Linked DNA regions of Homo sapiens. The protein of the gene in region 1 purifies or fractionates together with the protein of each later gene. This does not show direct contact. Each region holds a gene or a part of one and is shown on either strand. Other genes may lie near its edges. The genes, in order: OR14J1 and KCNIP1.

The links.
Region 2: the proteins of OR14J1 (region 1) and KCNIP1 purify together in Homo sapiens (affinity purification with mass spectrometry; one large-scale study listed by BioGRID and IntAct). This does not show direct contact.

Annotation. Positions count from the first base shown.
Region 1 is NC_000006.12:29,300,090-29,304,014, reverse strand, and holds the start of OR14J1 (olfactory receptor 14J1), read right to left. Parts: upstream 2,315-3,925; 5' UTR 2,228-2,314; intron 1-2,227. UniProt on the Homo sapiens protein: Odorant receptor.
Region 2 is NC_000005.10:170,510,332-170,514,156, reverse strand, and holds part of KCNIP1 (A-type potassium channel modulatory protein KCNIP1), read right to left. Parts: intron 1-3,825. UniProt on the Homo sapiens protein: Regulatory subunit of Kv4/D (Shal)-type voltage-gated rapidly inactivating A-type potassium channels. Regulates channel density, inactivation kinetics and rate of recovery from inactivation in a calcium-dependent and isoform-specific manner.

The DNA.
Region 1 (3,925 bases):
AGAGCTCTTTTTTCCTTTCCAAGTCAGTGACCAACCCTATACTCAACCTTGCTCTATCGCAAAGGGCATCTTTGCCACAGTATGCACTTGCTCTCTCTCTCTCTTTCATAATAGTGCACATTTTATGTGTGTGTGTGTGTCTGTATATGTGTGTGTATAAAATCAACACAAACTCCATGTCTAAAAATTCTAATAATGTTGATTTACTGAGATTACTCTTAATGAACCAGATTGTTTCACTATGCTCTGTTGATAGATGATAGATTAGAGATAGATAGATGATAGATAGATAGATAGATAGATAGATAGATAGATAGATAGATAGAGATAATCTTAAGACTCATCCATTTTAAAGAAAAAGAAAAGTCTTCACTCCACACTTAGGACTTACTTATAATGTCCCTTCTCTTTACAGCCATGCTTTATGAGCAGAATAGGGTATCATTCTGTGCCCTGGCACATTTGGTTCAATTCTTGAACCATGTTAATCATTCTTGCTTCATGAGTCCTCACAAACAGCTCCAGCAAATCCACAAATAACTATCACAACGGTAAATTCAATGCACTCTTTCTATTTTGTTTTTATTTTAAATTTTGTTTCTCAAATATATGACACTATTATACAGTTCTTTCTTCTAAAACAGCTGACTTCCATTGGCTCTATGCCACTTAGTTCTGGTTTTCTATTTCCTCTCTGAATATTTTTTCTTAGTCTCGTTATCTGGGTCTTCTTTTAACATTTATTGAAATTTGATGGTTTCCAAAAATTTGTCCTGACACTTTCTTTCTGTACTTTTGTTTACTCAAAAATATTCCTGTGCCTTTTAAAGAAGACAGATTAACTATTTTCCTACACAATAGAAAATAATAGTCTGCTGTTTCGAGCACTACCATAGGTCTTCTGGGTTGCAGGTCCCCTGGGTTGCAGGTCCTCATATCCTGCTTCACGGTTGGCACATCACTGTCCCTGAATGGGTCTTTCCCATAAGGACTCATCTCTTCTCCCAGACATCTCCCTGTCACTGTGACCTATTTCAAAGAATGGCACAACTTTGCTTTAATCTGTATATCCAATCAAACACCAAAATTTTATTTGCTTACTATCTGTTGTAGTTATTACATCTTGCTGTCACACGTACAGATTAGTTCAAACCTTCATTATCTCTGGCAATATTTTATTCTTCAGTTTTATGTATTTCTAATCCAACTTCAATGCTGTTGCCAGGACAAATGGTGATGCAGATCACATCTTGTAACATTAATTTAGCTTTTAGCTCTTTATTGACTTGATTATGCAATGATGCCCAAAAAGCTTAGGATGGCAAACAATATCTTTACAATGCTTCCTGACTGCCATTCCAGTATTATCTATCATTGTGACTTCTCTAACCCCATGCCAATCTCCATGTCTAATAATGGCGACTGACTTAATTACTCTTAATAAATCAATCAGGTTGTATCACCATGCTGTGTTTCTTTTCTTAAATCACACTATCCCTCCTGTCTGGAAGTCCTCCCATTAGAATTGCCCCTCATGGCTGAGCACGGTTGCTCACACCTGTAATCCCAGCACTTTGGGAGGCTGAGGTGGGCAGATCACCTGAGGTCAGGAGTTCAAAACCAGCCTGGCCAAAATGGCGAAACCCCATCTCTACTAAAAATACAAAAATTAGCCGGGCACGGTGGTGGGCACCTGTAATCCCAGCTACTAGGGAGGCTGAGGCAGGAGAATTGTTTGAACCCAGGAGGCGGAGGTTACAGTGAGCCAAGGTCGCGCCACTGCACTCCAGCCTGGGTGACAGAGCGAGACTCGTCTCAAAAAAAAAAAAAAAAAAGAAAAAAAAAAGAAAAAAAATCTCCCCTCATTTGTTTGGCAAATACTTAACTATCTTTTAACACAGCTACATTGTCTCTTTCCATTTATAATTCACCTGAGTTTAACTGTCGACCCAAGAAGAATTGTCACTCTTTGGAGCCCAGATTGCATTCATTTAAGATTCCTTATAATTTATACTAACTTTTTTATGCTTTATATACTTTTTTATAATTTATACTACCTTATTTGCATAGATATCGCAGCTTATTTAAACTGTTCTTAGTTAAGGAGTGAGAAATTATGTATCTTATTTAGAGTTATAACTTTGAAGACTCGCATAGTCGCTGGCACTAAGCAGGTGCTACATAAATGTTGGATAAATTCCATAAAATTTGAAGAAGTTTTACTCACCAGAGTGGATCTCTCGGTAGAAACAAATCTCAATTGATCCTGAGACTGAGCATCTTTGTTCTAGAATCAAGCTGGTGTTTCAGTCAGTGAAATTTCCATGTAAGGAAAGGACTGAAACGCTTTTATATAGGACCAAACAGGATGTAACTGCCCAGGGACATTTAAATTTCCTATTAACTAAGGGGTATTTGAAATGAAGCCAGTGCTGTCCAGGCACTGGGGACAAAAATCCTGTGCAGGAAAGTTGGTGTTTCAGATAAAAACTATGAGTTCAAAGCAGGGGATTTCATGGACCTCTCCCTCAGGGAATTGCCTCAGTGGGAAGTAGTTAATTATTATCTTGGTTTAGCTAACTCTTGTAGTCGATGCATTTCAGGTTAAAAAAATGAATATTATACATAACTCGTTTTCTGTAACACAGGTTCACAGGTTTTTCTAGTAAAAAGGATTTTTTTCATTAATTAACAGTTTCATTTTAACTGGTCACCAATAAAATCATGCATGATTGCACTGGCCTTATGTAAAAAAAAAAAGGAATACTTAGTAATTATTTACATAAACCCATACATAATAGTAGAATCAAAGAATCTCAGAATAAAACCATGACTTAGAGAGCTAAACTTTCTTCAAACATGGTGTCTTTTCTAAAATTACTCTGAAACTGATAATCCAGCCCTCATTTTAACAATCCCCCAGATGAATAATTTTTACTCAAAAGTGAATGAATTCCATTCTTAAATATGTGTGATTATGGAAAAGGCATTTTTTTAAATTATACTTTAAATTTTAGGATACATGTGCACAACGTGCAGGTTTGTTACATATGTATACATGTGCCATGTTGGTGTGCTGCACCCATTAACTAGTCATTTAGCATTAGGTATATCTCCTAATGCTATCCCTCCCCACTCCCCCCACCCCACAACAGGCCCCAGAGTGTGATGTTCCCCTTCCTGTGTCCATGTGATCTCATTGTTCAATTCCCACCTATGAGTGAGAACATGCGATGTTTGGGTTTTTGTCCTTTGTGATAGTTTGCTGAGAATGATGGTTTCCAGCTTCATCCATGTCCCTACAAAGGACATGAACTCATCATTTTTTTATGGCTGCATAGTATTCCATGGTGTATATGTGCCACATTTTCTTAATCCAGTCTATCATTGTTGGACATTTGGGTTGGTTCCAACTCTTTGCTATTGTGAATAGCGCCACAATAAACATATGTGTGCATGTGTCTTTCTAGCAGCATGATTTATAATCCTTTGGGTATATACCCAGTAATGGGATGGCTGGGTCAAATGGTATTTCTAGTTCTAGATCCCTGAGGAGTTGCCACACTGACTTCCACAATGGTTGAACTAGTTTACAGTCCCACCAACAGTGTAAAAGTGTTCCTGTTTCTCCATATCCTCTCCAGCACCTGTTATTTCCTGACTTTTTAATGATTGCCATTCTAACTGGTGTGAGATGGTATCTCATTGTGGTTTTGATTTGCATTTCTCTGATGGCCAGTGATGATGAGCATTTTTTCATGTGTTTTTTGGCTCCATAAATGTCTTCTTTTGAGAAGTGTCTGTTCATATCCTTTGCCCACTTTTTGATGGGGTTGTTTTTTTCTTGTAAATTTGTTTGAGTTCATTGTAGATTCTGGATATTAGCCCTTTGTCAGATGAGTAGGTTGCAAAAATTTTCTCCCAT
Region 2 (3,825 bases), on another chromosome or scaffold:
TTCCTGGGAGTTGGGAAACTAGCTGTAACTGCTCAGCCTCTTCCTGGGGCTCAGAGGCTTGCTTGTCCTGGATATGCCCTCCAGCTGCAGGCAGGAGCCCAGGTGGTGGAGTGCCTCGCAATCAGATCCACTTCAAGTCCTTGCTTACTAATCACTAGCCAATCAAGAACCTCCCTGCATCTACGTTTCCTACTCTGCAAAGTGAGAATAATAATGAAACCATTACAGGACTCCTACAAAAATAAAAAGATTACTTTTTTGGGGGATCCCCACCAACAGAGAGGTCCTACTAGACCCCCTGGAAAAGGCATTTGACTTTCATTCCCCAGGCCCTACCTGTGTCTGTTTAGACTCCTACTTTAGTCACATTTTCTGGCTTCAAATCCCACACAAAGGCTCTGTATGTAAACCAGGCTGCCATCCTGCTCTGGGATTCTGAACATTATCAGTGAAATCCATTATGCAGGCAAGTCTCTAGTTGCAGTCCACATGGCTCTGTCCTGCACCCTGTTCTGGCCCATGTTCTTAGAAGCAACTTAGATAAAGACCTAGAATGCCTCCTTATCATTTCTTCAGGTAGCAGAAAACTTGGAGGTACAGCTAAGATGATGGCTGGTGGAGTCAAGATTCAGGATCTCTGTTGGCTGGAATAACATTTAAAATGAGTAAACTAAAACTTAATGGGCGTACATCATCCTGCACTTCTTTGTTGTTAAAAAGAAAGAGAGAGAAAGAAAAACAGACAAGCTTGATTGCAGAAATGCAAATCTGGAAATCTGACTTCTTAACAATTTATATGAGATGACCAGGGCTGGGGTTCGGATGTCAGGCCTAACACTTGAGCTGTGTGATTGTGGGCAAACCACTCACCTTCTCTGGATTCTATTTTCTTATTTGTAAAATGAGGCTTAAATCAGAAGTCTTAGCAAAAGCCTCTTCTGGCTTGATATATAATTTTGTGTAATACAATACACATAGTTCCATAATCTGTACTTTAGGCCAGTATTCCTCAGACTCCAGTGGGCATATAAACCATCTGGTGATCTTGTTAAAATGCAGGTTCTGACTGGGTAGGTCTCACTGAGTTGAGGTTTTTTTTTTTTTTCCAAGATGGAGTCTCGCTCTGTCGCCCAGGCTGGAGTGCAGTGGCGCGATCTCGGCTCACTGCAAGCTCCACCTCCTGGGTTCACGCCATTCTCCTGCCTCAACCTCCCGAGTAGCTGGGACTACACGCGCCCGCCACCACGCCTGGCTAATTTTTTTGTATTTTTAGTAGAGACGGGGTTTCACCGTGTTAGCCGGGATGGTCTCTATCTCCTGACCTCATGATCCGCCAGCCTCGGCCTCCCAAAGTGCTGGGATTACAGGCGTGAGCCACCGCGCCTGGCCGGGACTCTGTATTTCTAACAAGCTCCCAACTGATGCTGAGGCTGTTGGTTGGAGGAGCACACTTTAAGTGGAGTAGACCCAGATAGTAACAATTTACCTTTAGCGCATTCTGAGTGCTGACCGCTGCATCTTACATGCATGACTGCATTTAATCCTCATAACAACCTGGGAGGGAATTATCAACAATACTTTCATTTTCTAGATTATGTAGAGATGAAAGTTCACAGAAGCGAGGTAACCTGCTCAATGTCACACAGCTAATGAGTTGCAGAGCCAGGATTTGAATTCTAGGTCTGCCTAACCAGGAGTGTATGCTCATAACAACCGTATAACATACGCAGGTGATTTGGGCCAACATGTGGCTAAGGAGAGAAAGGAGATGAGCAGTAAGGTACTTGCAAATGTACTAGCAAGTTCTTGTGTTTTTTTCTTAGCAGTGATAACCACTTGTAAACCGACTGATCTCCTTGCCCACCTGGACCGTGTGAAAACTCTGATCCTGGTCCCTGGTTCTGAACGTTTGCAATTCTAACATACTTGGAAGATATTTAAACACTCTATCTTCACTGACAGGCAATGATGGCTATAACAAAGAGAGAAAATTTTAGTTCACATAAATGATTAGAGCAGAGGAGAGATGTTTAATCCTATTAATGAATTTGCTAATTGGCCTTCTGCCCCCAATCATTTCATATTCAGGCTTCCACAGTGTCAGATGAAATGGAAACAGATCTAGGGGGAGGCGGGGTTGGGATGGGGCTAAAAGCATTTTGCTCAGGGCCTGCACGTAGCTCAGTTGTTCCGTGTGGCTAATGAGGTGCTTCAGTCTATCCTTGAATGCCTTCTCCCCAACATCCATGCACCCGTTTTGACTGTTTTTCTACTCAGGTCCCTAAGGTTCCAGAGGCAAAGCCAGGAGGAGAGGAGGTTAGTATGGCAGTTAGAAGCTCAGGGTCTGGGATCAACCAGAACCAGGCTCTGCGATTCCCAAGCTCTATGACCCTTAGTAAGGCACTTCCCTTTTTAGAGCCTCAGGTTCCTCAACTGCAAAATGAGAACTGTAATAGCATCTTGTCCTCCAGGGTTGGGGTTAATAAAATAACACAGGAAAGAGCCGAGCAAGGTGCCTGGCACTGGGTGGAGGCCAGAGTCATTTGAGCTAGTATTATTATCCTTCCTGGCGGGTGACCTGCATTTTCATACCTCACTGTTGGGAATTGCTTTTACCATCTAAAGTTGACAGCTTCCCTTAGGAATCACCAGAGAAACTGCTTAGAATGCCAGTGACCATGGATATGGTGGCTCGGGATCTCAGAGGGCTGGAATCAGAGGCCACAGCTCAAAGGGATGGGGAGATTACCAAGGGTAACACCGTCATCATCCAAGTGGAGCAAGGCAGAAGGAAGGGGCCTGTCCTGAGATGGGACAAAAGGCAGCAGCAAAGCCAGCACTGCCAACTCACCTGGTGTGCAGCACCATGTTCAATTCCTTCTTGGCCCTCACGTGGCCCTATAGGGAGACACTGTCATTGTCCCCATTTTTTAATTTTTATTTTTTTTGAGACGGAGTCTCGCTCTGTCATCCAGGCTGGAGTGCAATGGTGCAGTCTTGGCTCACTGCAACCTCCGTCTCCTCGGTTCAAGCGATTCTCCTGCCTCAGCCTCCTGAGTGACTGGGATTACAGGAGCATGCCACCATGCCCGGCTAATTTTTGTATTTTTAGTAGAGATGGGGTTTCACCATATTGGCCAGGCTGGTCTTGAACTCCTGACCTCGTGATCTGTCCACCTTGACCTTCCAAACTGCTGGGATTACAGATGTGAGCCACCATACCTGGCCCACTGTCCCCATTTTATAGAAGAGGAAACTGAGGCCTGGAAAGGCTCAGCTATGAACCAATGAAAGGGAGTTCAATCCCAAGACTCTTATTTTAACGCGGTGCTCATAGCCATAATGCAATCCTACTTCTAGCTTCCTGATTTGAGTGGAATGTGGTTCCTACTTCCCCCCACCGCACCAATGAGGCTTTTAGTCTGGCCTTGAATAACAAGATTTAATCCAAAGTACTACTCCCATGGCTGGGGTACGGGAAGCTAGCAATATCCCAACTGACTACCACTACTTCCAGAAGGTGACCTATTTAAAATACTACCCGGAGGAAGGGGAAGCATTTAAAGAGATGTTTCTCTGAAGGCCCTAGGACTCTTAGGCTCTCTCTCTCTTTTCTAAAAACTGTTCCTTCCCTGCCTGATGAATGGGAACATCAGCTCCACGGCCATTATGCAGAATTTTGCAGAGCTTCTCCCCAGGAGCAGACCTGGATTCCTCATCTGCACCGCCGCATTCTCACACCGCTCAGAGCCATCAAGAACGCACACTCTGGCCCATCCATCCTTACCTCCATGCCGCCAGCATCCATCAAGCCTGGATGCAGTG